Homo sapiens: one gene and its partner. The protein of the gene in region 1 interacts with the protein of each later gene in a biochemical or structural test. Each region holds a gene or a part of one and is shown in the gene's direction. Other genes may lie near its edges.

Region 1 (4,008 bases):
ATTGACATCATGAATTTGTACTAACTATAATAATATCTAATATTTATTAGTAATACTTACCAGCTGTTCTCATTTAATTTTTATAACAATCGTATTAGGTAAGTATTATTATTCTTGTTTTACAGATGAGGAAACTAAGGCACAGAGAGTGAATAAGTAACTTGTCTGAAGTCACATAGCTACTAGAAGTTAGAGACAGAATTTTATTGTTGGCAGTCCATCTACACAGTCATCATTCTTAATCTCCAAGTTATGATTTTTTCCATTGTGACTTAGAGTCACCTTCCTACTGAAATATAGTACAATGGATATCTTTTGAGAAGGAGGTAGGTGGAGTATTGTCTTTTTTGTAGATGAAAAGGGTGAAATACCACATTAGGCAGCCTGGGGGCAAGGCATTGCTTGGTTGGAGAACCAAGTGCAAGGTGCTAAAAAAAGGAGCTAGAACAGTAGTTTCCAGGCTGAGTGTGGTGGCTCATACCTGTAATCTCAGCACTTTGAGAGGCCAGGGTGAGAGGATTGTTTAAGCCCAGGAGTTGGAGACCAGCCTGAGCAATATAGGGAGACCTTGTCTCCACAAAAATATATATAAAAAAATTAGCTAGATGTGGTGGTGGATGCCTATAGTCCCAACTACTTGGGAGGCTGAGGTGGTGGGAGGATCTCTGAGCTTGCTAGGTCAGGGCTGCAGTGAGCCATGATCATGCCACTGGACTCTAATCTGGTTGACAGAGTGAGCCCCTGTCTCTAGGAAAAAAAAAAAAAAAGGAGTAGTTTCCTAAAATCTTTTCTGTAACATTCTATAATTCTTCATTTTGTTTTGTTTTGTTTTTTTGAGACTGAGTGTCCTTCTGTCACCCAGGCTGGGGTGCAGTGGCACGATCTCAGCTCACTGCAAGCTCCGCCTCCCAGGTTCACGCCATTCTCCTGCCTCATCCTCGCGAGTAGCTGGGACTACAGGCATCCACCACCATGCCCTGCTAATTTTTTGTGTTTTTAGTGGAGATGGGGTTTCACTGTGTTAGCCAGGATGGCCTCGATCTCCTGACCTTGTGATCCGCCCACCTCAGCCTCCCAAAGTGCTGGGATTATAGGCTTGAGCTAGCGCGCCCAGCCTAACATTCTATATTTCTTTCTCCTAGTTCTATGTTTCAATTCTTTAAATACTTTTAAGGGTTTTTTTGAGACAAGGTCCTGTTGTGTCAGCCAGGCTGGAGTGCAGTAGCGTGACCATAGCTTCCTGCAACACCTCCAATTCCTAGGCTCAAGCGATTCTCACTCCTCAGTTTCCTGAATAGTTGGGACCATAGGTATGCACCATCATGCCCAGCTAATTTTTTAATTTTGTAGAGACAGGATCTCGCTATGTTGCCCAGGCTGGTCCTTTTTTTTTTAAATTTTATTATTATTTTTTGAGACGGAGTCTTGCTTTGTCACCCAGGCTGGAGTGCAGTGGCGTGATCTCGGCTCACTGCAACCTCTGCCTCCCGGGTTTAAGCGATTCTCCTGCCTCAGCCTCCTGTAGCTGGGACTACAGGCACGTGCCACCGCGCCTGGCTAATTTTTGTGTTTTTAGTAGAGACGGGGTTTCACCATGTTGGCCAGGATGGTCTCGATCTCCTGACCTCGTGATCTGCCCACCTCGGCCTCCCAAAGTGCTGGGATTACAGGCGTGAGCCACCGCGCCCGGCCTGCCCAGGCTGGTCTTGAACTACTGTCCTCGAGTGATCCTCCTGCTGTTGGCCTCCCAGATTGCTGAGATTACAGGCATGAATCATGCACTGCAGCTTTTAGGATTGTTATTAGAATCCTCTACAAGTTCTTGATACTCCATAATTGAGCCTCTCCTAGAAACTTGGTTTCAGAGACACTGTTGCTAGGTCTTTATCACTGATTGTTCCTTCTTTGTCCTTTTTGCTTATCTTTCTGCTTGTTTCTTTCTCTTGTTCAGTATGCTTCTACTTTTCTCTTCTCACCCTTGAGGCTAGGACTCTTCTTTGAGACAGGGTCTTGACTCTTTTTTGAGACAGGGTCTTGCTATGTTGCCCACGTTGGTCTTGGATTCCTGAGCTCAAATGATCCTCCCACCTCTGCTTCCTGAGTAGCTGGGATTACAAGTGTACACCACAGTGCCCGGCTTGGGGCTAGAACTAAATAGTAAACCAAGCAGTTTCCTTCATTTCTTCCCATTTGCCCACCTACCTGCCTTTCTAGCTGCTTGCCTTCCTACTTCAATTTGACATTCACTTGGTACCTACCATAGTCCTCTTCCCTTTGTATTAGTCCATTCTCACACTGCTATAAATAACTACCTGAGACTGGGTAATTTATGAAGAAAAGAGGTTTAATTGACTCATAGTTCCGCAGGCTGTATGGGAGGCAGGGCTGGGGAGGCCTCAGGAAACTTGGAATCATGGCGGAAGGCGAAGGGGAAGCAAGCATGTCTTCACATGGCTGGCAGGATAGAGGGAGAGAAGGGGAAGGTGCTACACACTTTCAAACAACCAGATCTCTTGAGAACTCTATCATGAGAGAGCATTAGGGGAATGGTGCTAAACCTTTGGAAACCACCCCTATGATCCAATAACCTCCCACCAGACTGCACCTTCAACACTGGGGATTACAATTTGACATGATATTTGGGTGGAGACACACAGAGCCAAACCATATCACCCTTTATTTATCTTTTATGTATAAAAGACTCCAAAAATTTCATTCCTGGCTTCTCACATAAACTACTTTCCTATATTTTTATCTATTTAAAAGATATCTCTCTCTTTTTCTTTTAAAGTTGAGACAGGGTTTTACTATGTTGCCCAGGCTGGTCTTGAAATCCTGGGCTCAAGCATTCCTCCCACTTCAGCAACCTGAGTAGCTGGACTACAGGTGTGTGCCATTGTGCCTGGCTGCATCTCTGTTTGAATAGTTTTTTTTTTTTTTAATTTATAGAAATGAGGTCTCACTGTATTGCCCAGACTGGTCTTGAACTGCTGAGCTCAAGTAGTCCCCCCATCTTGGTCTCCCTAGTAGCTGGGATTATAGGTGTATGACACGATGCCCAGCTCTATTTGAGTAATCTGTTTTTTTTTGTTGTTGTTGTTTTTTTTAAAGACAGAGTCTTTCTGTGTTGCCCAGGCTGGAGTGCAGTGGTGCGATCTTGGCTCACCGCAGCCTCCGCCTCCTAGGTTCAAATGATTTTTGTGCCTCAGCCTCTCGAGTAGCTGGGACTACAGTGTGCCACCACGCCTGGCTAATTTTTTGTATCTTTAGTAGAGATGGGGTTTCACCATGTTGGCCAGGCTGGTCTTGAACTCCCGTCCTCAAGTGATCCACCTGCCTTGGCCTCCCACAGTGCTGGGATTACAAGTGTGAGCCATTGCGCCCAGCCTCTATTTGAATAATCTTTAACATCCTATATATGTATGTACTCACCAGTATTTCCTTTAAATCTGCTGTTCTTCCTACCTTTCTGTATCTTTCATCACTATCACAATTCAGTTTTTCATTTCCCCAGGCTAAGGAACTATAAGTGTTTGGATTTTATTTTTTATGTGTTTATCTGGGTTATTAACTCTTCTCAGGTCTTTTGCCAAATATACGTGTGTGTGTGTGTATATGTATGTGTGTATACATACATATATAAAAGTTATTTAAATCAAAACTATACATCCATATATTAATATTTAAAGACTTAGATAGTTTTATAAAATGTTTGTTACAAAAAAATTATAAGGGAGTCCTCTGCTCCCTTTCTCTCATTTCCTTCTCTCCAGTGGCATCATTTTTATTTCTTTTAACAGAATTCTTTGTTTCTGTTTAAATAAAGTGTCCCAGTGAAAGACATTAGTTTCCAGATCAAAGGGGCTGTGCACACATCAAGGCCCATTATGCTGAAATTTCAGCATCAGATAGAGAATATCCTATAAGCTTCAGAGAGAATAAGATTATTCACATTCAAAAGATTCAGGTATCAGATTGGTCTTTTTTCTCAGTAGTCATGCTGGAAAG
Region 2 (3,500 bases), on another chromosome or scaffold:
ATTTCTGAATGCTAATGGGGTACTTAACTATGAGTAATTCTATTTTAAATCTCAAGGTGATGATGATTAATAGTATCTCAGGGCACTAAATAAACATGTATTAAATATGAGCGTATGTTTAAAGGGGGAGTTTTTAATGCAGTCTTTAAGGCACAACTGCTTCTCACTTGAATTCTTTAACTGAGATTAAGGAGTCCTTGGCATTTTAAGCAAAGTCATTTCTTAGGTAAAGTTCCCCCAGAGACCACTTGAACTTTTGCAAGTCTTAAAACAATGGGTGGTTCCATTTGATGGTTCAGAATAGAAAGGAGAGTGTTGATCCTCTACACTGGTATGAAAAAAACTGTATAAGGAGATGGAGGATGCTGGATATCATAGTGCCCGAGAATCACCTGGGGCCCTTGTCAAACACAGATTCTAACTCAGGACACCTGGGAGAGGACCCGAGCTGCATTTCTCACAGCTACCAGATGCTGCACGCTGGCAAGGTTTTGGGATGCACTGAATCCAGTTCAGCATGTTTACTGAGCATATACCACATAGAGAGCCCAGATGATAAAAAAATGAGAAGATGGGTTGTACCTGCCCTTGAGGAGCTAACAAGGTGAGGTGGCAGGGAGAGAGAGAGGGATTGTAAACTGAAAATGAGGTTCTGGGATGCCATTCTCTGGGGTGGTGGCCAGAAAGGGGCCCAGGAAAGGAGAGTTGCTGGTAGGGCTTCCACATTGCTGACCTTGACCTGTAGTCATATTTGAATGGAGAGCCTTGTGACTTGGCAAGAAATAAAATGCAGATTTTGAAGTCAGACAGACCTGGGGTAGCCTCCCAGCTCAGCTATGGCAACTTTTAACCTGAGACTCAGAGTCCTTGTCAGAAAAACAGTGCAAATGATGCTTACCTTGCCAAGTTTGTAGAATTACCAGTAAAGGACGCGTGTTAGGCCTAACAAAAGTGATTGCTTTTATTACTGTTGATAGGAGAGAGGAGGCTGGAAAGCAAGGAGGACGAAGAGGTTACTAAAATATGTTCCATGTAGTTCACCAATTAGAGATTCAATTTGGTTTACCAGCAAACCCAAGGCCGGCCGTGGAGAACCGGGCCAGGGCTGGAGGGCAGGCAGCTGTGGAAGCTAATCAGAGGCAAAATGGAAAATTATTGGGAGCATGCTTATCTCCACCCTCTCCTGCAGTCCCTGGCTTCTGGTTTGCTTTGTTGATAGCCCTTCCTAGGATATTTTCATCTGAAGCTTTTCTTGGTACTTAAGCTGTAGGTTCTGTTGATCAAGACTGCTAGTGGCAATCAAGCGCTCTTTAAAAATGTAGTGGAGAGGACAAACACCTCTCCTCTTTGAGGGGCATTGGTCTATTCTGTGGTGGGTCACTTTCCAGGATCAAAGCCATCAATCTGTCTTTCCACCATAGTACGAGTTACTTGAAACTAGTGCCGAGCGTGTTGGAATTCACCTGGGGTGCCTTTTATGCTTTGCACTCTAAGATATTGCTTCCTCCTGCCATCTAGGAGAGATGGATATTGCAAGGCAATGGTGTCCTTCACCCTGATATTAGGAGGGGTCACCTGGGTGGCCCTGAAAACACTTCAACCAACATCACTCTGATTTTTTAAAATATATTTTGGGATTCCATTTATTATTTGCAAAGGCGATTTCTCTGCTACCATTTGCCTTCCACGCTCCCTGAAAGTAAATCTTGAAAACCAAGTTCTAAGAGAATGGCAATGGCAGTTTGATGTTTAGGGGGAAGGAAAAGCAGAGGAACCCCCTGGAGCCAAGGCAGGCCTGGGTGAGGGTGGAGACGAGAGAGGGAAAGGAAGGCATCGTCAGGCATGGGAGTACCAGGATGGAAATGGGAGCAGTGGTGGGGGCTGAAGCTGAGAGGTTGGACCCTAGGACTCAATTTGTGGACTTTGTTGCTTTGCTGAAGGCCGTGGCAGATAATGTTCCCAGACCACTGAAAATCATCCAGGCTTCCAGAAAACACAGGCCCATCTAAAGACAGACAGGTGACGAGGTGACAGAACCTAGTGGCGTGATTCTTCTAGCCTCTTCTGAGCCAAAAATGACATGCACAATTTTATGAATGATATTTGTGCCCCTTGGTGATAAAATATTAAGAGCTCGAGGTCATCTGAAAATTATTGGTTTTTTGTTTATAAAAGTACATAGTTTTTGGAAAAGATAGAAAAGAAGGAAAAAACCCCACAATTTCAAGATATATTTTCCGTTCAGTGTTTTTTCTATGCATTGAAATATTTTTATATTAGTTTATCTTAAAAAGCACATGGATATAATCTTGTAAAAATTTTCAAATAGCACAGAACCATTTCTAGTAGAAAGAAAAAAAATTCCCTTCATCCTTGTGGCCTACCCATAATCATCGCCCTATCTTTTATTTGCCTAGCAGAAACTGGATTTTGTACAGTAGACTGCCAACCCACACCTGCCTCTGGAGGTTTATCAGATTGGCCACTCAACCCTGGTGAGGGTGGGGCTGCTGCCCTTGCCAGTGACTGGCTCAGGGTGAGCATGCGGACCCTGTTCTAGCCAATAAAATGTGAGGGTGGGCCACTGGGAGGCTTCTGGGAAAGTTTCCCTGCTCTCAAAAGAGACAAGGAAGGAAACAGTCCTTTCCTTCCACTAGATACTGTGATATGTGGCCATAATGCCTGCAAACTGGGCAGCCATCAGCCACCAGAGGGGCTGGGCCAGGTCTCAGCTGACCTGCGGAAGAATGCAAAGGTGAAGAAGGGCAGGGGGCGGGGAGGTCTCCGTGGTGCCCTTGACTTTCTGAATTACACAAAGAAGAGTCTGTTTTTGAACATGTGTGAGATCATGAAACCATTACCAGATGAAGCAAACTGAGCTAGTTTTTCTGTTGTAGCCAAAAGCATCCCATAACTCTCCACCTTTCTCAGGAGGTAATGACTGATAACCATGGGGCATGTTCTGCTAGTCATTTTTGGCGCATTTACATATACACACACATATGTACACTTTTAAAAACTAAGGCCGGGTGCACTGACTCACGCCTGTAATCCCAGCACTTTGGGAGGCCGAGGCGGGCGGATCACGAGGTCAGGAGTTCGAGACAATCCTGGCCAACATGGTGAAACCCTGTCTCTACTAAAAATATAAAAATTAGCTGGGCATGGTGGCACATGTCTGTAATCCTGGCTACTCAGGAGGCTGAGGCAGGAGAATCACTTGAACCAGCGAGTCGGAGGTTGAAGTGAGCCAAGATCCTGCCACTGCACTCCAGCCTGGCAACAGAGCAAGACTTTGTCTCAAAAAAATAAAATTAAACTAAAAAATAAAAACAAAAACTGAACTCATTTTATGTATATTATTTAGCAACTTAATATGGCATGGATTTTTAATGACATACCTTTTTCTTTATTTTTAAAGGCTACAGAGTATTATTCAGAAGTACAAATAGGACGTTATTTAACCCATCCCTATTAATAAATAATCTATTGAGTTGACT

What was found. The genes of interacting proteins can lie anywhere in the genome.
Region 2: the proteins of ARNT (region 1) and NPAS2 form a complex in vitro, tested with the Homo sapiens proteins (one study listed by BioGRID).

The regions. Positions count from the first base shown.
Region 1 is NC_000001.11:150,866,304-150,870,311, reverse strand, and holds part of ARNT (aryl hydrocarbon receptor nuclear translocator), read left to right. Parts: intron 1-4,008. UniProt on the Homo sapiens protein: Required for activity of the AHR. Upon ligand binding, AHR translocates into the nucleus, where it heterodimerizes with ARNT and induces transcription by binding to xenobiotic response elements (XRE).
Region 2 is NC_000002.12:100,823,139-100,826,638, forward strand, and holds part of NPAS2 (neuronal PAS domain-containing protein 2), read left to right. Parts: intron 1-3,500. UniProt on the Homo sapiens protein: Transcriptional activator which forms a core component of the circadian clock.